Linked DNA regions of Homo sapiens. The protein of the gene in region 4 purifies or fractionates together with the protein of the main gene of each other region. This does not show direct contact. Each region holds a gene or a part of one and is shown on either strand. Other genes may lie near its edges.

Region 1 (6,931 bases), on a different chromosome or scaffold from region 4:
ACCTTGTCCCCGCCGCCTCCAAAAGGGGGCCCTAGGCCGGCGGCCCCAGCGGCCACTTCGGCCGCCTCGGCCCTGCCGTACAGCGCTTCCTCCTCCTCCACGTGAGCCTCCACGTGCGCGTTCAGCTGCTCAGAGCTGGGGAAGCCCTTGCCGCACGGAATGCACACGTACAGGTTGTCACCGAAGCTCTCGGGCTCGCCATAGGCCAGGTGCGGGCATGGGTAGCCCTCGAGGTGGCCGCCAGGCGGGCTGGGGTCCTCGCTGCTACCGGTCTCCTCGCTGCTGCTCTTGTAGTCGTCGCCGTCGCCGCCCGCGCCGGGCCCGTCCAGGCTGCCAGGGTAGCGCGGCGGCGGCGCCAGGCCGAGCGGGGGCCCCCCGGGCGAGACGGCCGCGTCCCCACCACGCTCTTCGCAGCGCTCGCTGGGGGAGCCGCGCTCCCGGCCCAGCTCGTCGCCATAGCTACCCAGGCCCGGCTCGTGCTTCATCCAGCGATAGAGGAGACTAGGCCCGTCGGGGCGGCCGGGGGGCTCGGGTCCCGGGCTGCCGCTGCCGCCGCGAAATGGGTCGGAAGGCGGTGCGGCCTCCTCCAGCTTCTGGAAGGGCAGCGGCGGCAGCGACGGCAGGGCGAGAGGCGGCTCCTTGTAGGCGGCGGGGCCGGCGCTGGGAGGGCTGTCCGGGCGCGGGGGCAGCTCGCGCTCAGCCAGCGGCCGCTCTGGCGCCGCGGAGCCCGGCGGGCTCTTCTTGGACAGGTCCAGGCCACAAAGAGGGGAGCAGCGGCGCTCCGAGGCACAGAGTGCGGCGGCCGGGCCGGGTCCCGACGCGTACAGCTCGGCGCAGTGCGTGTTGACCGCGGCCTCTGGGCCCGAGGGCGGCTCCGCGGCAGGCGGCGGCGGAGGCCCGACTGGGGACGGGTAGCAGGCCTGGATGACCGGCGTGGCGGCCCGCAGGCCCCGGCCCGGCCGACCATAGGGCGCGTAGCCGCCGCCGCCGCCGCCGCCGCCCCGCAGGTGGCAGTACTTGCCGTGGCGCTTGAGGCGTTTCTTGCACAGCGCCACGAGGTCGGGGATCTGCAGGTAGCTGGCGGCGGCCAGCACGGCGCCCAGGCTCGGCTCAGCCCCCGGGGCCACGGCCGCGGCCGCAGCCGCCTCTGCGCCGTCAGCCAGGCGGCCGGTGTAGATGAAGTCCAGCACCAGGCGGAACACGGCCGGGCTCACCATGTCATGGTCCAGGTTGAGCAGGTTGTCATGCACCACCAGGGACTTGAGGTAGGCGCTGCTGGCCGCCAGCACGTTCTTGTGCGCGCGGAAGAGGGCGTTCTGCACCACGATGATCACGTCGCACAAGAAGCCCTTGGTGCGCTGGTTGTTGAGCTGCAGCAGCAGCTGCCTGGAGTGGCCGGGCGCCTCCATCGTGTCCAGCATCGTCTGCCCAGCACACTCTCCTGCGGGGACACACACCGGCCGGGTGAGAGCCGTGCGGCGCCCTGGCCGCCTGGCCCCAGCCCGGCACTTCTCCCCTCCACTTCCCCTTCCCTCAGCTGAGCGGGGGCATCAGCCCTGCGGCCTGGGCACCGGCGAAGGACCGGCTGCCCTCTGGAGTGGGAGCCCAGGCCGGCCCGCCCGGACCAGGAGAAGGAGCAGGAGGTGAGCGGCCGCCGGTGGAGGGGAGGCCAGGGCGGCCTGCACGCCCCAGGGCACCTGGCTGGGTGCTGGGGCTTCCGAGAAGAAAACTGTTCAGGCGCAGTGACCCTTTTGGAGACAGTTACCCGATTTAAGTAAAATGTCCGCTTCAGGAAAAGTCATTCAGGGCGGAGAACTTTACCCAAGTAGGGAGAAAGGGAGCCGAGGAACCAGCGCCTCCCGCCTCGGGAGAAGTTGCCCCAGTTGGGGGAAGTGATACGGAGGAGGGGAGCGCGGTGCCCGCCCTGGCGCCGCCCTGGCCGGGGGCTGTCAACCCTCGGTCGGGGCCCGGGCGGCGGCCGCGCGGGGAGCGGAGGCAGCGGCTGCCGTGGCGGGCAGAGCGCGAAGGCCGGGCCCGGCGCGGGGAGGGCGTTATATCGGGGCAGGAGGCTGAGGCAGGAAGCAGGTGGGGGGGAGGGGGGAGCCACGCAGCTCCCAGGGGAGGGAGGGGGCAGCGCCCCGGGCGGGCACGGCGCACAGCCGGCTGCGGCCCTGACCCGGGCCTGCGCCCCACCCGCGTCCCGGCCTCGGCCTGGGCCCTACACGCGCGGGCCCGGCGCCTCCCTCCGCGGCTCCCCCGGCCCCTTCTCCCCCGGAACTCCGCCGCCCCAAACTTGGGGAAAAGTTTTCCAACTGCAGACAGGGCGGGAGGAGTGCGCCGGCCCCAGGCCCTCGGCTCGCAGCTCTTCCTCGCGGCCCCCAAATCCGGCGGCAGAGCCCGGAGCCGAGCCCTGAGCTCCCCTGCCCGCTGCTCGCCCGCCCGACCCCGTTCCCCTCCTGGCCCGCGGGGCCCCGCGGCCCGTTACCTGCGGTCCCGGCGGGCCGGGCTCCCCTCCCCGCGGCGGTGGCAGCTCTTAGCCGATGCCCCACCCGCCGCTGCCAGGCCCCGAGCTGTGCCAGGGCAGCGCCCCTGCCAGCCCCGCCCGCCAGCTCCCCTTCCCTTCCCTTCCCCTCGCCTCTCCAGCCCATGTGCGGGCAGAGCCGGCCCCGGGCCGCTGACCCCGCCGTGAACCCGGCGCGGAGCCGCGGCCCGGTGGTCCTGAGTCCGAAAGGGACGACACCCGGAGCCCTGAACGCCAGCCGCCAGCCGCGATGGGGCACCCGCGCCAGAAGATGCACCCGAGGCGGCCGACGCACGAGGACCGGGCTGTCCCGGGTCCCCCGTCCCTCCCGGTCCCCGGCTCGAGGACCCACCTGGGGGGCATGTCGAAAGCCCCGGGCCCGGCTGACGGCGGATCCAGGGGGGACGTGGCTGCGCTGCCCTCCGCCCGCCGGGCCCCCGGTCGGTCTGTCCTGCTGGTCCGTCCTCCCCGCGTCCTGGTCGCGTCTCAGCCCCGCCGCGCTTTCCGCACACTCTTATCTGGAGCGGCCCGGGCCGGCGGGCGCTGCTGCGGCTATGGCGCCACCTCGCGGGCGCGCAGGGCTCTGCGCGGCAGGCCGCTGCCTTCCTCCCGCGCACCTGAGCTGGAGGCGCACAGATGCTGAGCCCGCGGGGAGGGGCCCACCCTACCCGCAGGTTCGCCCTCCCACCTGTACCCACCTGGGACCCCGACCCCGGACACGCGAGTCCCAGAAACCCTGGGGCTTTGAGCTGAGCGCTCCCATGTACGTATTTCTAGGCACACAGCCCCAGTTCGGAAAAGTCCTGCCCGCGAGCACGGGACTCGGGTGGTGGGGGAGAGGTTATCCTGCGCAGGAGTAGCCGAGCTCTCCTGGAACTCCCCGTAGACATTACTGTACGGCACTGTCCACTTGGACGCACTCCCCAACACACCCACCCTCACTCAGGCGCATGGATTCGGTGTGCGCGGCATAAACTGATTTGTCCCCAGCCCTATCCAGGCACTGATACTAACAGGCGCTCATGTTTCCAGAAGCACACCCGCCCCTTCCCGCAGCCCTAGCGCTCTGGGATACTCCAGGGGCAGCCACGTAGGGCCCTCCGGGAACCTGGGCAGAGGTGTTACCCACACAGCCCGCCCTGAACTTTCGGGTCTCCTAAAGGAACCCACGACGAGTCATCAGGGCGACTGGAAGTGGCTGGACAGCGCCTCCGGGGGGTCCAAAGAAGTAACCATGGGGCCCTAGAATCCCCCTGTACGCCGTTTTGAAGAATCCCGCGTGGACTTCTTCTCCAACCCACCCGCCCGAAGGAAACAACAGGGGCGCCTGCGGCTGGGACCCCGCAAGGTCCCGCGCCCCACGTGAAGGTCAGGTTTGTGTGGGTGACGTCTCTTCTGGGAGAAAGGGGACCCCGCACTGTCGCGCCGCTGCTCGCAGTACTACTCCGGAAGTGGCCCCGTGCAGCCCCGCCGCGCACCAAGCCTCCTGCGAACGCCGGATCTCCGCGGCCCACGCTCCGCCTCCGCCCCGCACCTCCTGACCCCCGCCCACACACGGCGTGGAGCGGGGGGGGGGGGGGTCCCCGAGAACTCCGCCGCTTCCGATTGGCTGCGCCTCCCTCCACCGCGGAGCGCGAGGGGCTGGGGCGCTGCGTTACCATGGCAACCGGTGAGGTGCGCCCAGATCCTGTCCCTCCGAGGCCTTGGAGAGCTTAGCAACCGCGCTCGCCGCCCCCCGCGCTGTCCTCTGGCCCCCATGGCCCCGCCAGAGGTACCGGCTGAGTCACCGGGCGAGGGGCAGCGGGCGCGGCTACCAGCGGCCCCCGAGCGACACCAAGGTCTCGGGCGCCCCCCGGAGGCTCCCTTTGCTGCGCAGGCGACTTCACGGCTTCGGTGCCTGGCGGAGGCTTCGGTCCAAACGAGTCCGCCTGATTCCCGCCGCTGCCTGAGTCCGCCCCATGTTCTGGATCCATCTTACCCACTCCCTCTCCCATGTCTCCCCATAGCATCCTCACTTTAGAAGCAGTGAGGTCCCAAAGAGGAAAACGGAGGCCTCCGGAGCTGCCGGTCTCTAGGGAAGGCGGACCCCGACATCTCGCCCGAGGGACGTGCTGCGGCCTGAGGTGGAAGTTACGGAGTGTTGAGGGGAGGTGGAGAGGCTCCTCATAAGTGCTCCTAGAGCTGGGCTTTGACGGATGAATAGGAGTTCTTCTACCGAGCAGGAAGGCATTTGTGAATAACAGAATCCCTGGAACAAAGGCTAGCGGCAAGAAAACTGGAGCTCTAGTAGGCCAAATCCAGACTATGCAGGGCCTCTCTGACCCCATCTCTTTTATCTTTTCTCTTTTTGATAGAGTCAGATCCCCCACCCCCGACTTCCAAAGAGCCCCTCCGCCCCATGTATCTTGTGCAGTGGAGTCTGTGCATTGCTAACCTGCCCCAGGGGTCTGCTGTGCCCACAGTCTTTATTCTTCAGCGTTCCCCCACATCCGCTCCCCAAGTTAACTTACTGCCCCTAACCCCATCCTCAAGCCCTCATTGCTTCTGTAAGGGAGGGTCTCACAGCCCTGCCCCAGCCCAGGCCCCTAACCCCATCCTCAAGCCCTCATTGCTTCTGTAAGGGAGGGTCTCACAGCCCTGCCCCAGCCCAGGCCCCTAACCCCATCCTCAAGCCCTCATTGCTTCTGTAAGGGAGGGTCTCACAGCCCTGCCCCAGCCCAGGCCCCTAACCCCATCCTCAAGCCCTCATTGCTTCTGTAAGGGAGGGTCTCACAGCCCTGCCCCAGCCCAGGCCCCTAACCCCCTCCTCAAGCCCTCATTGCTTCTGTAAGGGAGGGTCTCACAGCCCTGCCCCAGCCCAGGCCCCTAACCCCCTCCTCAAGCCCTCATTGCTTCTGTAAGGGAGGGTCTCACAGCCCTGCCCCAGCCCAGGCCCCTAACCCCCTCCTCAAGCCCTCATTGCTTCTGTAAGGGAGGGTCTCACAGCCCTGCCCCAGCCCAGGCCCCTAACCCCATCCTCAAGCCCTCATTGCTTCTGTAAGGGAGGGTCTCACAGCCCTGCCCCAGCCCAGGCCCCTAACCCCCTCCTCAAGCCCTCATTGCTTCTGTAAGGGAGGGTCTCACAGCCCTGCCCCAGCCCAGGCCCCTAACCCCCTCCTCAAGCCCTCATTGCTTCTGTAAGGGAGGGTCTCACAGCCCTGCCCCAGCCCAGGCAGGGTGAGGACCGCCTTGCCCTCCTGTGCACTTCACTCTTCGACCTTTCTCTCCCTGCCCCGCTCTTCCGGCCATGCCTTGCACAGCCCTCCCCATCCTGGTCCAGCTCCTCGTCTGAACACACTCCTCTCATTTAGACCCTTCCTCCATCTCGATGGAGCCAGGCTGGGCCAGGACCATGCATTTCCCCGCTCCCAACCAGGGGAACTGCCCCACAAGTCATGGGCTCTCCCTGCCAATTCTGGTCTCCGGGAACATTAACTTCTCCAGGAAACCGTCCTCCTCATCCCCTGGGGGCCCCTCTTGGCCAAGCTGCTGGTCTCCTTCACTCTCTATTACCCTAACGTGAGCTCTGGGAGCGTCCATCGTGCCACAAATGGTCCGAAGGTGGGTCCTGGATGCCAGGCTCTGGAGCGTGGCACTGACAGCCTTTCCTCTCTCCCTTGCTGAGGCTGCCCATTCCTCTCACCCCTACCTCTGGCGCGTTCCCCCAGCTCCCTCATAGAGGATCCCGTTGCTCATCATTTCTGGGGAGGTTGGCCCACCTTCCCCAACTTCTCTGCCGTCCCTCGGGTCTCCAGCTCCTGGGTGGTACCTGAATCCCCGCTGGGCCTTCCCTCCCAGGCCCAGGTTCCTCCGCTAAAGACTCCTGGGCTACTTTGGGCTCCCCTACTCTTCTTCTCCCGGCCCCCGACGCCACAGCCCTCGCTGCGCCCCAGGCCCCCACGGGAGTCCAGCTTCCTCTCCTGCCCACCCTGCAGGACGAGAGGGTGGCGACACCGCAGTGGCCTTGCGGGGTGTGACGGCAGAAACGTCAGGTCCAGGAACTGAGGAGGGGGAAGGGGCTGCCACGTGAAGACCCCCAGGAGCCGCGGGGCTCCGGAAGGAGAGCGTGAATAAGCTCGAAGGGCCCGCCGCGCCCCTCCGCGCCGCCTCCCCGGCCCCAGGCCCGCGGTTCCGGAAAGTTAACCCCTTGTCGGCTGGGCAGGGGCGCGGCTCCCCCTACCCCGCCGCCGCTTCCGCGCCCCCTCCTCCCCTCCCGGTCGCCTCGGTCCCCACCCCCCGCCTCGCCACTATAAATAGCCCCTTTTCCCATTTCCTAAATTCCCCGCTGACGTCGGCAGCGCGTCAGTGTGTAGGAGCCGCGGCCGCATGAATGAGCCGCCGCACGAGTACTACGCGCGCCTATAAAAGCCG
Region 2 (7,028 bases), on a different chromosome or scaffold from region 4:
TGAAACCGTCTCTACAAAAAAAAAAAAAAAAAAAGTATTTCGGCTTGGTTGCGCATGCCTATAGTTCCAGCTACTTGGGAGGCTGAGGTGGGAGGATTGCTTGAGCCCAGGAGGTTGAGCTATCGTCACACCGCCACACTCCAGCCAGGGTGAGAGAGCAAGACACTCTCAAAAAACAAAAAATAAAAATAACTGCAAGTAGAAAAAAAAAAAGTATCTGCAAGGTCTACAGGAATAGAAGAATTCCAGAAGGATATACACAAACTATTAACAATAGTTACCTCAAAGGTAGGGTGTTAAAAAAAAAAGTATTATTCAAAACAGATGTTTTTGAGTTTAAAAAGAGTACTTTATTAATTCTACCAAGACATCAGCTGACAAGGGTAGCAGAATAGGAAAGCTTGCCATCTCCCTTAGGCTTTACTTTTGTAATTTCATAGACCCAGTCACCGATCATTATTCCCTTTCAGTTTTTGGACATTTAAATTTTGCACTAATAATCTGTTATTGATATATTGATGTTTATACAGGTTACTGCAGGCAACATTTCCAATCCAAGTGCTTCAAACAGCCTAAGAAAGTGCTTTTATGCTCTAAATGAAATTGAGGAGAAAGGAGGAAAGTACGGTCCAGAGACCATCTACAGAACAACGTATCTTTAGAATCCAAGTTTTTTTGTTTTTGTTTCTGAGACAGAGTCTTGCTCTGTCGCTAGGCTGGAGTACAGTGGCGCGATCTCGGCTCACTACAACCTCTTCCTCCCAGGTTCAAGCTATTCTCCTGCCTCAGCCTCCCCTGTAGCTGGGAACACAGGAGTGCGACCACGCCTGGTTAATTTTTTATTTTTTTTGTATTTTTAGTAGAGACGGGGTTCCAACACATTGGCCAGGCTAGTCTCGAACTCGTGATCTCAGGTGACGCGCCTGCCTCAACCTCCCAAAGTGCTGGGATTACAGATGTGAGCCACCACAGCCGTCTCCAAGTTTTTTTTGTTTTTTTTTTTGTTTGTTTTTTTTTTGAGACGGAGTCTCGCTCTGTCGCCCAGGCTGGAGTGCAGTGGCATGAGCTCTGCTCACTGCAAGCTCCGCCTCCTGGGTTCATGCCATTCTCCTGCCTCAGCCTCCCGAGTAACTAAGACTACAGGCACCTGCCACCACACCCGGCTAATTTTTTGTATTTTTAGTAGAGACAGGGTTTCACTGTGTTAGCCAGGATGGTCTCGAACTTCTGACCTCGTGATCCGCCCACCTTGGCCTCCCAAAGTGCTGGGATTACAGGCGTGAGCCACCACGCCCGGCCCCCGCCTCCAAGTTTTATCTTGAAAATTAAATTCTGGGTTTTATTCCATAAGGTAACGGGTTCCATTTTAATATAAAAACAATCTTCAATGCTCTCTTAAATAATATTCACAGTATGAATAACTATGACCTTCCAGGAAAAAATACTTTTATGATTTAGCACAGGGGCTGCAAACTATAGCGTGTGGGCCAAATCTGGCCTGCCGTCAGTTTTTGTACTGCCTTTGAGCTAAGAATGAATTTCGCTGTTTTTTTTTTTTTTTTTTTGAGACGTCGTTTCGCTCTTGTTGCCCAGGCTGGATTGCAATGGCGTGATCTCAGCTCACCACAACCTCAGCCTCCTGGGTTCAAGCGATTCTCCTGCCTCAGCCTCCCGAGTAGCTGGGATTACAGGCATGGGCCACCATGCCCGGCTAATTTTGTATTTTTAGTAGATACATGGTTTCTCCATGTTGGTCAGGCTGGTCTCTAACTCCTGACCTCAGGTGACCCACCCGCATGAGCCTCTCAAAGTGCTGGGATTACAGGCGTGAGCCACTGTGCCCAGCCTATGAATTTCACATTTTTAAAAGGTTAAAAATATCTGAAGAATAATATTTTGAGACATGTAAAAATTATATTAAATTCAAATTCCAACCAGGTGCAGTGACTCATGCCTGTCATCCCAGCACTTTGCGATGCCTATGTGGGCAGACTGCTTGAGGCCAGGAGTTTGAGACCAGCCTGGGCAACATAGTGAGACCCGTCTCTACAAAAAATTTAAAAATTAGCCAGGTGTGGTGGTGCACACCTGTAATCCCAGCTACTCAGGAGGCAGAGGAAGGAGGACTGCTTGAACCCAGGAGTTCAAGGCTGTTGTGGGCTACGACTGCACCACTGCACTCAGCCTGGGCACATAGTGAGAACCTGTCCCCCCAGCCCAAAAGAAATTATCACTGTGCAGGAAGTAATGAATAAAAAGAAAAAAGTCTTCAAATTCCAGTGTCCATAAAGTCTTATTGAAATAGACACATTCATTCACTTACCTATTATCTATGGCTGCTTTTGTGCTACAACAGCAAAACTGAGTAATGAGCAACTGGGACAGAGACTGTATGGCCCACAAAACCAAAAACGTTTGGTTAAGACCTTCGCAGAAAAGGACTACTGGCCAGGGGTGATGGTGCATGCCTATAGTCCCCGCTGCTAGGGAGGCTGAGGCGGGAAGATGGCTTAAGTCCAGCAGTTCAAGACCAGCTTGGGCAACAAAGCAAGACCCCATCTGAAAAAAAATAATTAAAAAGGTCTGCTGACCCCTGGCTTGGCCTATATTAGTTCAAACTAATTGTAAGTCCCCATTTAGAGACGTGTGCTATGTGGTTACAGCACAGTTCCCAGTACAACTTAACCTAGTAAAGCCTCAAGTTTCCTAATTTACAAAGTGAGGACAATGACACTTAACTCAGAAGGTTATTGTGAAGATTAAATGAAACTTGGCTCATAGTAAGCACTCAAACTGCAACTGCTATTATATCTTTTTTTTTTTTTTTTTTTGAGATCTAGTTTCCGCTCTTGTTGCCCAGGCTGGAGTGCAATGGCGCGATCTTGGCTCACTATAACCTCTGCCTCCCATGTTCAAGTGATTCTCATGCCTCAGCCTCCCAAGTAGCTGGGATCACAGGCATGCGCCACCACACCTGGCTAATTTTGTATTTTTAGTAGAGACAGGGTTTCACCATGCTGCCCAGGCTGGTCTCTAACTCCTAACCTCAGGTGATCTGCCTGCCTTGCCCTCCCAAAGTGCTGGGATTACAGGCATGAGCCACCGCACTGGGCCTAGAATTTTTTTTTTTTTTTTTTTTAAGAGACAGGGTCTCGGGCCAGGCAGAGTGGCTCATGCCTTTCCAGCATTTTGGGAGGCCGAGGTGGGAGAATCACTTGAGGCCCGAGTTCAAGACTAGCCTGGGCAATACAGCAAGACCCTATGTCTTGAGAGAGAGAACAAACGAACATGACAGACCAACAGACAGACAGGGGGTCTCACTATGTTGCCCAGGCTGGTCTTGAGCTACTGGCCTCAAGTGATCTCCTTCCTCCTGCCTCAGCCTCCCTAAGTGCTAGGATTATAGGCCTGAACCACTGTGCCTGGGAAGATTTTTGTTTTACAATACTTCTTAATACTACAAATGAATGTGTTACCTTAATCTTCACTTCAGTGAGAAGACTAATGATTTCATCATAATACTTTATCACCTTTCAAAAGCTTTCGAATGTTGGAAACCCAGAAATTTCTAATAATTTCCCCTGTATTAAAAAAATCTTTAGGCTGGGCGTAGTGGCTCATGCCTGTAATCCCAGTACTTTAGGAGGCCGAGGCAGGTGCATCACCTGAGGTAAGGGGTTCGAGACCAGCCTGGCCAACATGGTGAAATCCTGTCCCTACTAAAAATACAAAAATTAGCCAGGGGTGGTGGCAGGCACCTGTAATCCTACCTACTCAGGAGGCTGAGGCAGGGAGAACTGCTTGAACCCAGGAGGTGGAGGTTGCCATGAGCCGAGATCCTGCCACTGCACTCCAGCCTAGGCGACAGAGCGAGACTCCAAAAAAAAAATTTAAAAGTCCAAAATTGTATTGTTATTGAAACATTGTTAAAATGTGTTGTCACTCTGCTAGTTGCACTTAAGTACAGTTCTACTTAGTGAATATTTAATACTGCCTGCCAGGAATTATATTAAATATATATTATTTTTCACATATGATGTGTGATAATTTTCACGATAACCTTGACAAAGTAGGCACTATAATCTCATTTTACAGACAGATATGAAACTCATAGATGCTCTAAATGAATTTCGGGAGAAAGGAGGTGAACTCCTTTCATATGAGTTTCATATCTCTCTGTAAAATGAGATTATAGCACCTACCTTGTAGATTTATTGAAGTTTCTTCCTGCAAAGCTAAATAGCAATAATTTTATTTTTCCAGGAGCATATTTGAAAAATATTTCTTGCTTTGTTACAGCCTTATTTTCTACACATCACAGGAAAGCAATTTTAAACTTACAACTATAGTTCATATTCTAAAGGTCAAACAGCTGATCAGCGAAAGAGCCCAAATTCAATCACAAGTCTCACTCCCAATCTACCTGAATGTGTTAAACCACACGACTGAACACGTGTATTAAAATGGTCAGCAGAGACAGGAATTTCATTCTCTGGTATTTCAATATGTTCATTAAAAATGCCAGCTGACTTGCTATTTTTAGGTAGAACTTCCAAGCCAGTGAATGGATTTTTAAGCAGCCCTGGGGAGGAGTGCCCTGAATAACGACATTTAGGTCAACCATACTGCATATACAACAGGGGTCCCCTAAGATGATAACACCACATTGTCAGCCAGGCACAGTGGCTCACGCCTGTAATCCCAGCACTTTGGGAGGCAGAGGCGGGTGGATCACTTGAGGTCAGGAGTTCAAGACCAGTTTGACCAACATGGTAAAACCCCGTTTCTACTAAAAATACAAAATTAGCTGGGCATGGTGGTGCACGCCTGTAATCCCAACTACTTGGGAGGCTGAGGCAGGAGAATCACTTGAACCTGGGAGGCAGAGATTGCAGTGAGCCGAGATCATGCCATTGCACTCCAGCCTGAGTAACAAAGATGCGACTCCGTCTCAAAAAAAAAAAAAAGTATTCTCACTGTACCTTTGCTATGTTTAGATATGCTAATACTTACCAGTGTGTTCCAATTGCCTACAATATTCAGTACAGTAACAGGCTGTATAGCTTTGTAGCCTAGGAGCAACAGACTGTACCACAGGGCCTAGGTAGGTAGTAGGATATCCCATCAAGGTTTGTGTACACTATGACGTTCACACAACAAAATCCACTAATGACACATTTCTCAGAATGCATCCCCATCATTAAGTGGCAAATAACTGTATAGAGTGAAAGAGGCATCAGATTTCATCATGTTCAAACTGATAACAATTTCAGATAATTGTGGAAAGAGCTATTAACAAAGTATGTTTCCTAACTCAATTGACAAATAGGTTCACCTTGTCCAAATCCTAAATGTCAATATTCGAAGGCCATGTTTTTACACATACTGACACACCAAGAACACATCTGGCTTGAACAAAATATTGCTTCTGAGAAAAGACACATAAAGGTCATATGAGAAGTGTCAGAAAAGAATTCCTTTGACATCTATCCTTCCTCATCTAGGGAGAAATGTTAGTATTCTAAGCTCAGCTGTCCTCTACTTGAAAGACGGCCACAATCTGGAGCTAACTTAATTGAAGCCAGGGAATGAACATCCATTTCCTAGGAGGCCCATTTAGTAGAGACACAATCAGAGCAGGGAGAACTGCCTGGGGAGAGGGAGGCAATGAGAAGCAAAGGCTGGCCGCTGATTTGAGCATTCCCATAGCCCCAAAGAATGCTGCAGGGAAAACTATTTTAGAGTAAACCCCTCCTGATTTTGCAAGTACCACACAGCAAAAGCAAAAAGCATTCTTTTGAGTGAACTAAACAAAAAGGCTATTTAAGATGTATGATTTAATCCAGAAGTTAAAAGAATGCATTTATTACTTGTAGATTCAAACAGACATTACTCAGAACTTAAGTTCGTTTTAACTTTTGCCCAATTCTCCCTTCTCAGGGGTTATATTTTCTCTCTTCGGGAATGTTATTTATTTTCACTATTTCTTATTTTTATTTCATTTTATTTTATTTTTCAAATGGAGTTTTGCTCTTGTCGCCCAGGCTGGAGTGCAGTGGTGTGATCTCGGCTCACCGCAACCTCCGCCTCCCAGGTTCAAACAATTCTTCTGCCTCAGTTCCCGGAGTAGCTGGGACTATACGCACACACCACCATAACTGGCTAATTTTTGTATTTTTAGTAGAGACAGGGTTTCGCCATGTTGGTTGGGCTGGTCTTGAACTCCTGACCTCGTGATCTGCCCACCTCCGCCTCCCAAAGTGCTGGGATTACAGGCATGAGCCACTGCACCTAGCCTATTATTGAGCTTTTTATCTTGACAGATCTCTTTTTTGTGTGCGTGCGTGTGTGTGTGTGTGTGTGTGTGTGTGTTTTTGAGACGGAGTCTTGCTCTGTCACCCAGGCTAGAGTGCAGTGGCACAGTCTTGGCTCACTGCAACCTCCACCTCCCTGGTTCAAGCGATTCTCCTGCCTCAGCTCCTGAGTAGCTAAGATTATAGGCACCTGCCACCATGCCTGGCTAAGTTTTGCATTTTTAGTAGAGATAGGGTTTCTCCATGTTGGTCAGGCTGGTCTTGAACTCGTGACCTCAGGTGATTTCCCCCCCCCCGCCCCGCCCCCCCGCCATCTCGGCCTCCCATGGTGCTGGGATTACAAGTGTGAGCCACCATGCCCAGCCTACTGTTTATATTTCTAAAGAGAAATCATGGTATATGGACAAACCACCGACTGGGATTTCTTAGATGACTCCAGCTCACAAGGTCACACCACAGTGGGAAGCACGCCTTCAATTCTCAATTCTCTATCACTTACAAAAGGCCAGATAGGGCTCAAGTTCCAGCACCAGCCAACCCCCGTCATCTCCAGGGAATCTATATTATAAAATGCCTAGCCTCAACAAAGGTCCTGAGTGTTGTTTCAAATTTCACCTCCAATTTTCACTAAACATTTCTGATATAAGAAAATAGGCCAAGCCTGGTCGCTCACACCTGTAATCCCAGCACTTTGGGAGGCTGAGGCAGGAGGAT
Region 3 (7,127 bases), about 37 Mb from region 4:
GAAAAAACAGCAGTAGAAACCAGCTATCAGACCACTGATATCATGGTAAATAATTAAAATTCACTTAAATCAAAAATATGTGTGTTGCTTCCTCTCAAGTTACCTACATATAATTAAGTGTAGAAAAAATTAAATGTTATTCATATTCATAAGTAATATTAGTAATAGAAACTACAATCTAACTTCTATGGAGGCAGCCTTTGAAAGAAATCCTTTTTAATTACTGTGACTTCATGGAAAACACTAGTTTTACTTTTTGGATATTCACCGACATCCTGCAAACATCTTTCTCCATATATTTATATCTATCTCTGTATTACACACGTTCCTGAAAAATCACCTCGTAAATAAGAAACTACACGTGTTAACATTTCATTGACTTACATTAAAAATAGGAGCCTCATTCCCCAGAGGGGTAAGAACCATTCTGTGGTAAACTATGTAACAAAAATCACATGGAAGTATGGAGAAAACATTTGTCCCTGTGATATCTCCTGGGAGGCTGTATTCGAAGGGCTGGCATGGGTCCTGTGGCCAACTGTGGGTTCTGCATCACCCTGTAGTCATGTTTCCTTCCTGACTCAATGACTGCAGAATTTGGTGAGACTGCAACAGTGAAATGACCATTGCCCTCCTTTGTTCCACGGTGAACTGCAAATCCAGAATTACTGTAGGTCAGGAGCCATGGTCAGAGACAAGAATTGAGTAGCGGCTTTATGGGACCTCTACATTCTGTACTTTGAGGGATAACATGTATCACATTCTTTTTCCTTCAAAAACTCTAAGATTAAAATTAGGTATTGAATTCAAGAGTTGCATTTACATGCTATCCTTCCATGAAATTAACGAACTTTAAATTTTGATGAAGACTAGAGAATTATACATTGCACTTCTCAATGTGTTTTGGAAGAGGTATGTGGGAATGATATGCTTCATGTGGAACACCGTGAAATCTCTACATTTTAAACTTAAGATAATTTTATGTCAAATTTTATCCTAATTTATACAGGAATCATATATGAAAAGCAAATAGGTGCAAAGGGTTTATGAAAAATTTATAGAAAAAACTCAGTATTGGAACTATTCTATCCATTTACATTTTTCCCTGTAAATTTGGAATAGTATAGAAATTCATTTTTAGAATATCTTCCCTTCAGCATATATAATCCCAGTGCTCAGTAGAAGCAGTGTGTTAACATTTCATTGACATATTAAAAATAAGCATATATATTGAATGTATGCTGTATGACAGCACTACAATTACTAAAACCAAGAATGCAGGATACATGTTAAAGTCATATATTAGTATCCCCTACCGTTTGATTTGAATAAACCTAAATTTTAATAATCTTCTTTTATAAATTGATTCTAAAGATTTTTCCCCTATTCTTTAGCTGTATTTAAGAGATAAGAAGCAACCGTCACACATGCATCATGTTTAAAGCAGTAATTTATTCTGAGATTTACTTTTGTCTGTTTTCTTTCCAGTCCAGGTATCAATATTTTCAAGAATATTAAAGTATAATAATCAAACATTCAATTCATAACATATATGCTTATCAGAAGCTTTTACAAAATGGAAATTTTATGTTAGAAGATTTGGGCTACCAGTAATATTCACTGTGCATATTTTAAAAAAAAAGGTGAACAGAGTTCATTGTTTAGGGAAAATGATTATGGAGAAACTAAAATCAAGAGCAATTTTAATGTGGATATTAATGACAGTGATCACTTTCATATCCATGACTTTATCTGTTCCTAAGGACTAAAGGGATGAAGGCAGATTATGTACCTTACTGTCAAGAACAGGGTCAGAAAAGGTCAACAATATTAATTTAAGAAATGTTTATTAAGCATCTACTATTGGCTACGTACTCCACTAGGTGTTGAGGACATAGAAATAAGAAAAAAAAGTTACCTGAAAAGGTACTTGTCCACAGTTTGGCCCAAACTAACTAAACCAGAAACCACTAAAGTAAGGAAGAAAATGACTTCTGTTTGTCTCTTCACTTCATCTCTCTATGAGGTGAGGATGAACACTGAAGGAAGCTTAGCAGGGAGGTACAGGCCAGAAAGAGAACATGAGAAAATGCTATTTGTAATACCTCCTAAGTTTAAGAGTAGGTAAAATGTGTGATAGAGCTGGAAAGTTTTTTTTTCCTTTCTGGTCAGAAATCAGGGTAGCTGTAAAAATGTTGGTGGGGTGGGGTCAATTCCATAGTCTATGACCTGATTCGGTAGGCGACTGAAAAACATTGTACAACTCTTAAAAAAAGGGAGGAAGAACTCACACTTAACCAAGCAAAGCAAGGACACCGTGTTGACATACACAAGTTTCGGTTAACATGGTATCAAGGAAAGCGAGGACTGCCTGTACTTAAAATGATCATTAAGACTAATGATTCTAGTTTTGGCATTGAGGATGAATGCAGATATATAGACATAATGTATAGCAAAGAATATTTACAGTCACATTTCATGGACCAATAAATAACGCATTTACTTCTCAAAATGCCCAAGAAAATGTGGGAGAGAAAATGTTCATTTATATTCAAGATTAAACTTTCTAACTTTAAATCATCAGACTTCAGCTGTAAATTTATTTCAGTTGAAAGGTTTGAAGACATTATTAATGAATATTCTAAAATTCCGGAAGGTGTTTAAAAGATAATTTTAACCTAATAAAAAAATCCTGCCATAGAAGTGACAAAAATTATAAGCATAAATTTATTGAGCACCTACTATGTGTCATTGTGCTAGGTGATGTACTACGTTATTTCCAATACTCCGGTCACGTTTCAGTTTTCTCAATTTCTCTATCAATAACTGCTACATTGTTAATTTATAACTATATTACTTGAAATACAGCTCAGCTTATTTATTCCATAAAGTTGGTCCCAAAGACGTTTCCTTATTCGAAGGAGGTGGGAAGCAGGAAGGAAACCTAAATCTAAATTCTACTTAATACTGAAGACGACTTTCTTGATATTTGTGGTTATCTGTATGGTCTTTTCAGAAATCCCAAAACTTGTACCAAGTCAAGGATAAAATAAGATAAAATCAGCAATCTATCAGGTTCAGAGATCACATCTGTCAGCCGATGCTTCTTGCCTTAAGGTCCTGCACGGCGATGACCGCTCATTTAGGAAGGAATTCATGGCCTGTGGATACCTTAGCTCTGAGTCCTGCCACCTAGGATCCCACGGTTCTACGCGAGGAAGAGGGCGGGGAGCGCGGACCGGGTGTGGGAGGCCGAGGTGACAGCAGGTGAGGGCCGGGTGCGGATGGGGAAGTGAGACAAGCACCGTGTGGGTATTACTCATTCCGCTCTACTAAGGAGGCTGCTGGCAAGCGGAACTTCTAGCCTCTCTTTCAATCCAGCTGAAGTTCAATCTCATTGAAGTCACTTCCCATCCCGGTTCGCTTGGGGGGAAACCAGGCGTCCCTGGAAGGGAAGGGAAGGGAGTCCGGGCTGCGCGGGTCAGGTAGCCTCTCTCCGGTCGCCGCGTGTCCTCGCCGTCCCCAAACCTGCCCTTCCCCTCATCAAGGGAACTCCCCGGGGAGTCCAGACCGCGATCCCTTTCCTTGGCCCCGGGGTGCGGGGGGCGGACACGCGAGGCGTGGGACTGATGGTAGCCCTGCCTCCAGGAAGCAGGCAGGCGGGGACCTCTGGGCGCTCGGAGGGGCAGCTCCGAGGGCACAGGGTACAGGGAGAATCAGCCAGATCCCTCCCTGCCCCGGGCAGCCGCGGCGGGTGTGGCCAGCGCGGAGGCAGGACGCCGCCGAGCCTCCAACTTTACCTTTCCAACTCCGACAGCCCGTCGCCTTTCTGACCGCGTCCCTACGGTTTCCCGGCATCCGCCTCCCTCTCCCCACCACACCTGAGGAAAACTTTTCCCTCGCCCCTCAATTCAAATTCAGCAGTGCCCACGGTTGCCGCAAACCGCCCGGTCCCTAGCAACAAGGTTCCGGCCGTAGAGCGAGAGCCTCTAGGTGTAAGGAAGGTGATGTCGTAAAGCCGGGAGTGTCGTAAACCAGGTGCGGTGGGGAGGGGGGAGGGGTGGAGGCGGAGGGGTGGGGGGGAAGGGGGAGGGAGGGGGAGGAGGTGACTCGAGCATTTAGACACAAGCGAGAGGATCATGGCGGATGGCCCCAGGTGTAAGCGCAGAAAGCAGGCGAACCCGCGGCGCAATAACGGTGAGTGGCGGAGGGGACCGGGGAGCGGCGGAGTCAGGGGGAGCTGGGCAGCCGGGGCGCCCCCGGGGGTGAGGGGGGCGAGCCGGGCTGGGGGCAGCCGGGGCAGGGACGGCAAAGTGGAGTGGGAAAGTAGAAAGTAGTGCTCTCTGCCCCCCTCCGCTGCCGCCGCTGCCGGAGCCGCGCCGCGGCCGCTCGCTCTCCCTGAACCGTTATGTCTCTTACCTGGTCTCTCTCCGCCTAGCGGCTCCCGCCGCCCCTGCCGCCTCCCTGGACCGTTAGCCGGCGCCGACGCCGCCGCATCCCCGGCGCAGGGCGGGCGGCCGGGACGCACTGGCCACTTTTCTGGTCCCGGGTGGAGCGGCTGTTGCTTCTTTCCGCACTTTTCCCCACTCTTGTGCCCTTCGGCGCCTCCCTCTCCCCCTCCTCCTGGCCCCCTCAGCGCGATTCTCCCTCAGCGCCCAGGCCCCCGGGAGCCGCGGAACAAACTTGTGCCCGGCGCTGACCGTGCAAAGTGGCTTCCGCGCGCCGCGGCCCCGGCCGGCGCCGTCGCTGTCGCTCGGGCCCCGCGACTCGGGCCGGGCTGTGGGCGCGCGGCAGGCGGGCTGCGGCGGCGGCGGGACGGGGCGGCCGCGGGTTGCGTGGGGTTTGTGCGCGCGTGTGCGCGGGCGCCGGCTGTGCGCGCCGCGGGCGGACAGGGTTCGGCCGGCGGCGGTAAAGTTGGGACCCGCGGGCCGGGCGCGCTCGCGTAACGGGGATTAGAGGCGCGGGGGCGCGGGTCCCTAAGCGCCCCTCCTCCCTGGCGCCTCCCGCTGCCCGGCCCAGAGCCCCGGCCTGGGGACTCCGCGGCGAGCCCCGCGAGTGGGGTCCACGTTTGGCGGGGCGCGGCGGGGCGGCGCGGGGAACAAGGCAGGAAAGGTACCCACTTAACGCCGCCGGGAGCCGCGCGGATGGGGGCGAGCTGGGCGGCGGGTGTGTTTGCGGAGTTGTTACCTGGGCTTAGAGACCGGGAAGCACCACAGACAGATCCCCCTCCCGGGGCAGACGAGGTCTCTGCGCCGGGATGGGCCGGTGTGCGTGCGCCTCGCGCTTTTCTCTTTCGGTTTTTGGGGAAGTTGTTACCTGGGCCGGACGCACGGAGCGCTGAAGCCGGATAATGGGGCTTGGATGGCGCTCTGGGTCTCGGGTGGAAGGAGGGTGGGGGAGGGGGCGGACGGACCGACGGACGCGCGGGGCTGCTACTTGCACCGCAGCTGCAGTGTTTATTGATTTGTGCTGCTGTGCCAAGGGAAACACACACCCCTCTGCCTGGCGTGAGAGTTAAAAAAAAAGAGAGACAGCCCGAGGGATCGAGACCTGAACATGTGGTGGTGGTTGCACAGTCGCCTTTTCCAGTTTGGAGAGACGTTGTAAGTTGATTGTATTTCTGGTTATCTCGGGGCGATGCTATGCTTTCTCTCCCTCTCGTGCAGCAGCGAAATGTCTGCTGATTGTTATTGTCTGGACAGTTCCTGTGGCGAGAGGGGCGAGACTTGTCCGCCCGGGGGCGGCGGGAGCGCAGGGAGAGCAGCCCCCGCCTGCGCCGCCCCGGTACCTGTTTGTATAATAATGGGCGGCAACGGCCCTGCCGCCGGCCGCAGCCCAGGCTATATAAGGAATTACACGTACATTTCGGACCGAGGGGCTCGCTTTGGTTCCTGCGTTATTTTTAAAACGACTTTTAAGAGAGGGGCAATAAATGCGTCTATAATGGGACCGCTGCAGCGTCGAGAAAACGAGGAAATACGTGTTTAGGAGAAAACTCTCTCGTGCTCCCCCAGCCCCACCCCCCGCGCCTGGGCTCCCTTTCTCCCTCCCCTCTGGGATGCGAAACGCGAGGTTTTGTAACCTTTCCTGGCAATTTTAGATTTTGTGTGGGATTTCCTGTCTAGAAGCAGATACGAAGATTTTTAAGCTGTTTCAAGATGTTTCCTTCCAATCCATAATTATATTTTTAATATATTCGAGCCATCATTAAAATCACTGCTTTCGTGATTTTAATTATTCAAATAAACACTTGCATTTTAAAGACGTCTGTTGATTATAAACGAAAGGTATTTTGGTATTCTCATTGTGGAGAGATGACTTGTTATAGCAAGGAGTGGAGCATAGGCTATTGCAATTTTAATTTCCTGTTTTAGCGTCAAATAGTGTGTGTTCCATATTGAGCTGTTGCCGCTGTTGCTGATGTGGCTTTATGAAAGGTAAGTTGGTTCGGAAAGAGCTGTTCGCTTTTTACCTTATTTAAAATGTTGATCGCCAGAGAAAGGGGCTTTTCTTGTTGCTGACGACATGTGTGTGACATGTGAGTCTGAACCACCCAGCGTCTGTGCAGCTGCTGTAAACATGTTTACCTGAACAGGAAAGAATGGATTTTTCTCCTTGAGATCCTGTGATATGAATATTACACTCGTAAGGCATATCAACAGATGACTTAAGGGGGGAAAAGCGATCCTGAAAGATACTTGAAATCAACAGGAAAGAGAGGTTCTTGATCGCTGCAGCAAATGGCAACTTGTGCAGGTAGAAAAAAAGATGGTGTTTAGTTTTCTCCTGCATGTATGTCAGCCCCCTCCTGTCTGCTGCTTTCATTCTCAAGGGAGGGATTTATTTACCACGCTTGCTGTCAGTGTTTTTCCTTTGTGTTTAATATTAGAAAAACAGATTTGCGTCTGTTTAGCACAAAACGTCTTGTCTGCAGTATGCATTACTCTCAGAAAACAAAAGGTGTTTAAGATAGCACTGTACTACTACAGGTATCTTCCATTTTCATCACTTTTGGCTCTGTCCTTGTATTTCTTTTTGTTCTCAAATGCATTTCATCCATTGCTGGTGATTATAGCCATGCTATTTGATTTAGCCTTATATTTTGCAAATTAAAAATGAAGTTATAT
Region 4 (7,818 bases):
ACGGTGAGCCGAGATCGCGCCATTGCACTCCAGCCTCCGCAACAAGAGCGAAACTCTGTCTCAAAACAAACAAACCAAAAACCGTACATTTACTCTCTAAAATTAACAGCTCTGAGCCATACCTATCCGTGGCCTTGGAGTCCAGTCACTAGAGCTTGCATGTGAGGCTCTATCCTCCTCATCACTTTCACAGGAATGAAAACCATTAGTGATAATTTCATCACCGAACAGAAGGTTATCTGCAAAAGAAACCAAGTCAGTCAAGGCTATCAAAACAACATGCACCTAAAATGTATGAACGGTTATAGAGCAATCATTTTCATCGAGTACAGCATTTAACATTTACACGGCGTGTGTAAAGCATGCCTATGGGGTCAGCTTGCACTGTTCATTGGAACAGTTTCTTCATCTTTAGGAATTCTGCTCACTCAGTTTCAGCCAAAATCTAAAAATAAATTAAGTCTACTTAAAAAACAGAAAAGATAGCCGGGAGCGGTGGCTCACGCCTCTAATTCCAGAGCTTTGGGAGGCCGAGGCAGGCGGATCACCTGAGGTTGAGAATTCGAGACCAGCCTGACCAACATGGAGAAATCTCGTCTCTACTAATAATACAAAAATTAGCCGGGCATGGTGGCGCATGCCTGTAATCCCAACTACTCAGGAGGCTGAGGCACGAGAATGGCTTGAACCCGGGAAGCGGAGGTTGCGGTGAGCCGAGATCACGCCATTGCACTCCAGCTTGGGTAACAAGAGCGAAACTCCACCTTTTAAAAAAAAAGAAAAGGAAAAAAAAAAAGAAAAGATAATAATCTAGCTAGAATGTATCATACAATCACAAACAATAGCGTTCGTGAAACGTGTAATAAATGGACATTTACATAAAAACGTCATTCAAATATAACCTTGGCAATGCGCACGTTAAACTTACACAATACTACAAGTACCTCTGCATTGTTTCCTCTATTAAATAAACAGTATTAATAACACAATTATTATTAGGTAAATAATAAATTAGTACTCAACTGTGTTGCTTGAAATCAGGGTCTCTTTACTAAATCAGTCCCTAAAAACACATATTACTTTTTTTTTTTTTTTTTTTTGAGACGGGGTCTCACTCTGTTGCCCACCCTGGAGTGCAGTGGCAGGATCACAGCTCACTGCAACCTCGAACTCTAGTACCTGGGACTAAAGGTGTGCGACACCACGTCCCGCTTTTTTTACTTTTAGTAGAGAGGAGGTCTCGCTATGTTGCCCAGGCTGGCCTGAAACTCCTAGGCTCAAGAGATCCTCCCGCTTTGGCCTCCCAAAGTGCTAGGATTACACGAAAGAGCCACCGCGCCCGGCCTGACCCAAATATTGATAAAGATGAACACCTATCAAGGATAGAAACTCCTCAGATCAAAAATAAGAAACCTGACCGGGCGCGGTGGCTCACGCCTGTAATCCCAGCACTTTGGGCGGCCGAGGCGGACGGATCACGAAGTCAAGAAATCAAGACCATCCTGGCCAACATGGTGAAACCCCGTCTCTGCTAAAAACACAAAAATTAGCTGGGCGTGGTGGCGGGTGTCTGTAGTCCCAGCTACTCGGCAGGCTGAAGGAGAATCGGTTGAACGCGGGAGGCGGAGGTTGCACTGAGCCGAGATCGCGCCACTGCACTCCAGCCTAGCGACAGAGCGAGACTCCGTCTCAAAAAAAAAAAAAAAAAAAAAAAGAAACCTTCAAGAACATGACAACTGCAACATATCTGCTTCATTATGCTAGAAGTGTTAAGTTTGTGTCTCAATACTACATACATACAAAAAAAGCATGTTTAGCCCAAACACCATTACCGCACAAGAGCAAGATTAGAATAAAAGTAATATGAACAGCTCTAAAAGTACTCTCTCTCCCATACCCACTCCTAACTGCATTACAGAATGGTAATGTCTTCAGGAACAGCCACGTTCTTTAAATTTTGCAAGCTGTGACTATAGAAACAGCTTTCCTCTTTCAAAAATTGTAATTTCAGTCATAAAAATATAGACCAAAAAAAGCAAACTGCACAGGTGTCAAGTTTGCAAAAAGCAATTGAAAACGCAGACCAACGGGACAGCCAAAAAGTTGCAGACTTAAGTGTGCTGGGGGGTAGAGGAGAAAAGCAATGAAAATAAAAAATAAAGAAAAAGAAAAAAAAAGCTCTAACAAAAGCAATATGCTAAAAGAGTAAGAGGGGGAGAGAAACTTATTTTAAAGCGACTGCGAGAGTCTCCCGACCTGGCTGCTGCGGAAAGAACAAGGCCGCCCAGGCGGGCCACGGACGGAGGAAAAGAGCGAATCCACTGGCAGCTCGCGCAGTAGGAACCGCAGCCCCGGAGGAGCGCGGCTGAACGGAGGGCCGGGGTGGGGAGGGGAACGCCGCGGAGCCTGCCCCGAGCCCCCAGCCGCCCTCAACCTCAGGCCAGTAGGAGCCCGGGGAGAGGGAGGAGGAGATGCGCAGTTCCGGCCGCCCGCACCCTGCGCACCTCGGTACCCAATCGCCGCCGCCGCCGCCTCTTCCTCCTCCTCGCCCTCGTCGTCGTCGTCTTCGTCGTACAAGTTGTCGGCCAGCGGTGGCTCCCGAGATGGGCCCTGCAGGCCCGGCCCATTGTCTCCTTCCCCAGCCGCCGCAGTCGCCTGGGCCTCTTGCTCCCCGCCTGCCGCCGCCGCCTCTGCCTCCGCCTCCCGCCACAGCGCCGCCGCCGCCGCACCCGGGCAGCCCCTGGCCGCCGCCGGCACCTCACGCTCTGGGGCCGCCCCACCGGGCTCGCCCGGGCTCCGCTCGAGGCCGGGACCATCTCTCCGCGGCCTCTTGCGGAGCGGCTCCCCGGCGGGGGACGACGCGGCCTCCCTGTCGGCCCCCGCCGCCGAGGGGGAGCCGCCGGGCTGAAGGGCGAGGGCCGCCTCGTCCGCCATCTTCCAACTGCCTCTCTGGCCCTCCTCCCTCGCCTCCTCTGCTCCCGCTCGACGCGCGGCACTGGCGCCCCCGCGGCTCCGGCTGCGGGAGATTTAAACCCCATCACGTGACCCGCCCCATCGCCGCCCCCGCCCTCTCGGCGCTCCCGCCACCCACGCGGGCCAGACCACAACACTACGGGTCACGTGGCGGGCGGAGGCTGTTGCGTCTACCGCTCCGCCTGGGCTGGAAGCGCACTCGGCCCCGGCGGCCGGCGGCCCTTCCTCTTTGTGGCGAGCGTGTAGTGCAGCCAAATTCGCCCCTCGGCCGCTTTCTCAACTTCTCTTTCAAACTGACCTCAAATCACTACCGCCGGAACAGCTCAAGTTTTGGTCCGCCCTGGGAATTTCCACGTCTTCCTGAAGTGTACACCTGGCCTGCCTTAGCCTTGTCTATATTTAGCTAAGGGTTAAAACACAGCTGAAGCTGGCTAAGACTTAGCTCCCTGAAATACGTTGGATAGTCGTTCTGTTTTGTTAATAAGTAGGAAGAGAGGCAAAAGGAGGCGGCTCCTTTCCCACTCTCCTCACACCGTTCTGACAGCTCCTCTTTTGCTCCTTTTTCTGCTCCTTGCTTTTCTCCTTAGTCGGTTGCTTTTTTCCCCTCTCTCCCATCACTTGTAGGGTGGTATACATTGTAAAATCCTTGAAGGCATATGTCCTCCTGGGAAGACCTTTGACGTGGAGGTTTGGAGATCAGCCGATCTACTTTCTGGCCCCAGCTTGGCTTCAAACGTGTGTGAATTCCCTCCTCCGGGCCTCAGTTTTCTCACGTGCAGAATGGGTTTGTTGGGTCAGTATGAGAGCATGGGAAGGAAATGACTTGGCCTCCATGCACATCTGCCCTTGGTTAAAATTTGGAGTCCTTCCTTTCTAGCGTGAGCTATCTAGCCGTTTCTAAACTTAATTTTTCTCATGTCTTAAATGGTAATAAGTATTTTAAAACGTCATAGATTTAAATGAGATAACCAGATGTAAAACGAGGGGTACCTAGTAGTTCAAAAGGCTTAGTGGAAAGCCCTTCCACTTTCCTCTCTCCCTGAAATTCTGGCACACTGTGACTCCATATCTAATCTTAACTAAGGACCCATATAACCCATGGTAGATCTAGAGCCAGTGTTTGTTATGGCATCTGCCTGGAGCACAGCGTTTCTATCTGTTTAAAGGACCTCTACGAGTTTATGGTACACTGTCCCTTAAGCCTAGTATGGGTTCTGGCCATACTGCATCAATTACCTGCGTGACTTTAGGCAACCAACTTAAAGCTGTTTCTTCATCCTTAAAATAAAAAATAAAAAGCTGGAAATATATCGCTAAGGTCCTATCTACATCCAAAAGTCTTATTTCATCTGGTCACCACTATTCATTTCTGAAAGTAATCATCTCCAGTCCTAGAAGCCTTAAAACCATCTTTGGTTGCGTGGGGGTCAAGGGGAGGGAGAGCATTAGGACAAATAGCTAATGCATGCGGGACTTAAAACCTGGCTGGGCGCGGTGGCTGCTGCCTGTAATCCCAGCACTTTGGGAGGCCGAGGCGGACAGATCACCTGAAGTCGGAAGTTCGAGACCAGCCTGACCAACATGGAGAAACCCCGTCTCTACTAAAAATACAAAATTAGCCGGGCGTGGTGGCACATGCCTGTAATCCCAGCTACTCAGAAGGCTGAGGCAGGAGAATCGCTTGAACCCAGCAGGCAGAGGTTGCGGTGAGCCGAGATCGCACCATTGCACACCAGCCTGGGCAGCAAGAGCGAAACTCCGTCTCAAAAAAAAATATAAATAAAACCTAGATGAGGGGTTGATTGGTGCAGCAAACCACCATGGCTCACCTATAAGTATGTAACAAACCTACACATTCTGCACCTGTATCCTGGAACTTAAATTAAAAAAAAAATCTTTGAAGCGTTCCTTCATACCAATCCCTCTGAAATCCATCTGACCAATCAATGACCAAATCCTGTTGTCCTTCCTTTCTTGCTACACTCCTCCCAATTCCTGACTAGGCACCACACTCCTAGTGGTTGACATACTTGGTCCTCCCCACTTTCTGTCTTACACTACAAAATATTTCATAAATTGACTCTCAGCTACGTTGGTGGAATGCAATATATGAAATGTTGAGAGTCAGTATCCCAATAAAACAGAAACAAAATTCCCAGCTTTTTTGAGAAAAAGATGTCTGTAAGCTTATGAGCATCCTGTTGTTCATTAATTCATTTATATTTATAGTATATTATTGACACGTGAAGTTTATGAACTACAAGAAATGCTATGTGATCAATATTATTGTTAGTATGCTGAGAGGTCAGAGATGCAGTATGCTTTTCAGGTAGGATAAATGAGAAACAGAAATTGTATTACAACAAACACAAAAACAAAAAATCCCAATTAGACTTCTGGTCTACCACTGGTTAAGAACTAACATTAAGGCTAGGCGCTGTGGCTCACGCCTATAAATCCCAGCACTTTGGGAGGCCAAGGCGGGCGGATCACCTGATGTCAGGAGTTCGAGACCAGCCTGACCAGTATGATGTAACCCCGTCTCCACTAAAAATACAAAAATTAGCCCAGAGTGGTGGCATGCGCCTGTAATCCCAGCTACTCGGGAGGCTGAGACGGGAGAATCGCTTGAACTCAGGAGGTGGAGGTTGCAGTGACCTGAGACAGTGCCATTGCACTCCAGCCTGGGCAACAAGAGTGAAACTCTGTCTCAAAAAAAAAAAAAAAAAAAAAAGAACATTAATATTCTGGCTGACTTAGTAGTTCTATTCTCCTAAGTTAATAAATTGGCCTGCCAAGCACGGTGGCTGACGCCTGTAATCCCAGCACTTTGGGAGGTCGAGGCGGGTGGATCACGAGGTCAGGAGATCAAGACCATCCTGGCTAACACGGTGAAACCCCGTGTCTACTAAAAATACAAAAAATTAGCCGGGTGTGGTGGCGGGCGCCTGTAGTCCCAGCTACTCGGGAGGTTGAGGCAGGAGAATGGCGTGAACCCAGGAGGCGGAGCTTGCAGTGAGCCGGGATCGCGCCACTGCACTCTGGCCTGGGCGACAGAGTGAGACTCCATCGCAAAAAAAATAAAAATAAGAATAAATAAAAAATGAATAAATAAAAAAATAAATTGGCCTAATAGCTCTGATATCAGTCTCATGTGACTACAATTAGTAAGGGAGTTAGTATCAACTCTTTTGTACTAATAAAATGTTATTGTCAAAACTGAAAAACACAAATGGAAATCCCTACTTCACACAATATACGAAAATAAATTCCAGCCAGGCGCGGTGGCTCACTCCTGTAATCCCAGCACTTTGGGAGGCTGAGGGGGGGCAGATCACCTGAAGTCGGGAGTTCAAGACCAGCCTGGCCAACATGGACAAACTACTACTGACTCTACTAAAAAATAAATTAGCCAGGTGTGGTGGCACATTCCTGTAATCCCAACTACTTGGGAGGCTGAGGGAGGAGAATTGCTTGAACCTGGGAGGCGGAGATTGCAGTGAGCCGAGATTGCACCATTGCACTCCAGCCAGGGCAACAAGAGCAAAACTTCATCTCAAAAATATAAAAAATTAAAAATTCCAGATGGATTGAAGATCTAAATGAAAAAATACAAAAATAAAAATATGACATTTTAGAATATTTATAACTTTGGATCAAGAAAGAACTTTTTAGCAAGGCAGGAGCCATTTTTTAAATGATAAAAATATTTGACAATATAAAAATTTAAAATATGCTCAAACCTATTAGTAGTCAGGGATACGTAGTGAAAAAATGTCCTAGCCAAGTACAATGGCTCATACCTATAATCCCAGCACTTTAGGAAGCTGAGGTGGAAGGATGGCTTGAGACCAAGAATTTGAGATCAGCCTGGGCCACACAGTGAGACCTCATCTCTCCAAAACCTTTAAAAATTAGTCCAGCATCCTGCTTTGCGCCTGTAGTCCGAGCTACTTGGGAGGCTGAGGCAGGAGGACTGTTTGAGCCTGAAGGTCGAGGCTGCAGTGAGCCACGGTCTAGCCACTGCACTCCAACCTGGGCAACACAGCAAGACCCTAACTCAAAAAAATAAAATACGGCTGGGCGCAGTGGCTCACGCCTGTAATCCCAGCACTTTGGGAGGCTGAGGCGGGCAGATCATGAGGTCAGGAGATTGAGACCATCCTGGCTAACATGGTGAAACCCCGTCTCCACTAAAAATACAAAAAAATTAGCCAGGCGTGGTGGTGGGCGCCTGTAGTCCCAGTTACTCGGGAGGCTGAGGCAGAAGAATGGCGGAAACCCAGGAGGCAGAGCTTGCAGTGAGCCAAGATCACGCACTGCACTCCAGCCTGGGCGACAGAGTGAGACTCCATCTCAAAAAAAATAAATAAAGTAACATCCGGGTGCGGTCAGTCATGCCTGTAATGCTAGTACTTTGGGAGGCCAATGTGGGCAGATCACTTGACGTCAGGAGTTCGAAACCAGCCTGGCCAAAATGGTGAAACCCCATCTCTACTAAAAATATACGATAATTAGCCAGGCATGGTGGTGCACGTCTGTAATCTCAGCTACTCGGGAGGCTGAGGAACGAGAATCACTTGGACCTGGGAGGTGGAGGTTGCAGTGAGCCGAGATTGCGCCACTGCACTCCAGCCTAGGTGACAGAGTGAGACTCCGTCTCAAAAATAAAATAAAATAACATTAAAACATGACCGGGAGTGGTGGCTCACACCTGTAATCCCAGCACTTTGGGAGGCTGAGGCAGGAGGTCAACAGTTTGAGACCAGCCTGGCCAATATTGTGAAACCCTGTCTCTACTAAAAATTAGCCAGGTGTGGTGGCACAGGTCTGTGATCCCAGCTA

The links.
Region 1: the proteins of SIRT1 (region 4) and HIC1 purify together in Homo sapiens (affinity purification with western blotting; 4 studies listed by BioGRID and IntAct, with this or other methods). This does not show direct contact.
Region 2: the proteins of SIRT1 (region 4) and TULP3 purify together in Homo sapiens (affinity purification with mass spectrometry; 6 studies listed by BioGRID and IntAct, with this or other methods). This does not show direct contact.
Region 3: the proteins of SIRT1 (region 4) and ZEB1 purify together in Homo sapiens (affinity purification with western blotting; 4 studies listed by BioGRID, with this or other methods). This does not show direct contact.

Annotation. Positions count from the first base shown.
Region 1 is NC_000017.11:2,051,181-2,058,111, reverse strand, and holds the start of HIC1 (hypermethylated in cancer 1 protein), read right to left. Parts: upstream 3,010-6,931; 5' UTR 2,874-3,009; intron 1,803-2,873; coding exon of another isoform or gene 1,766-1,802; intron 1,442-1,765; coding exon of another isoform or gene 1,422-1,441; coding exon 1-1,421. UniProt on the Homo sapiens protein: Transcriptional repressor. Recognizes and binds to the consensus sequence '5-[CG]NG[CG]GGGCA[CA]CC-3'. May act as a tumor suppressor. Involved in development of head, face, limbs and ventral body wall.
Region 2 is NC_000012.12:2,893,883-2,900,910, reverse strand, and holds part of TULP3 (tubby-related protein 3), read right to left. Parts: intron 1-7,028. UniProt on the Homo sapiens protein: Negative regulator of the Shh signaling transduction pathway: recruited to primary cilia via association with the IFT complex A (IFT-A) and is required for recruitment of G protein-coupled receptor GPR161 to cilia, a promoter of PKA-dependent basal repression machinery in Shh signaling.
Region 3 is NC_000010.11:31,315,096-31,322,222, forward strand, and holds the start of ZEB1 (zinc finger E-box-binding homeobox 1), read left to right. Parts: upstream 1-4,120; 5' UTR 4,121-4,139; coding exon 4,140-4,197; intron 4,198-4,419; exon of another isoform or gene 4,420-5,112; intron 5,113-5,187; exon of another isoform or gene 5,188-5,352; intron 5,353-5,458; exon of another isoform or gene 5,459-5,603; intron 5,604-6,105; exon of another isoform or gene 6,106-6,430; coding exon of another isoform or gene 6,431-6,437; intron 6,438-6,564; exon of another isoform or gene 6,565-6,740; coding exon of another isoform or gene 6,741-6,756; intron 6,757-7,127. UniProt on the Homo sapiens protein: Acts as a transcriptional repressor. Inhibits interleukin-2 (IL-2) gene expression. Enhances or represses the promoter activity of the ATP1A1 gene depending on the quantity of cDNA and on the cell type.
Region 4 is NC_000010.11:67,879,838-67,887,655, reverse strand, and holds the start of SIRT1 (NAD-dependent protein deacetylase sirtuin-1), read right to left. Parts: upstream 3,001-7,818; 5' UTR 2,935-3,000; coding exon 2,505-2,934; intron 2,476-2,504; exon of another isoform or gene 2,257-2,475; intron 240-2,256; coding exon 123-239; intron 1-122. UniProt on the Homo sapiens protein: NAD-dependent protein deacetylase that links transcriptional regulation directly to intracellular energetics and participates in the coordination of several separated cellular functions such as cell cycle, response to DNA damage, metabolism, apoptosis and autophagy.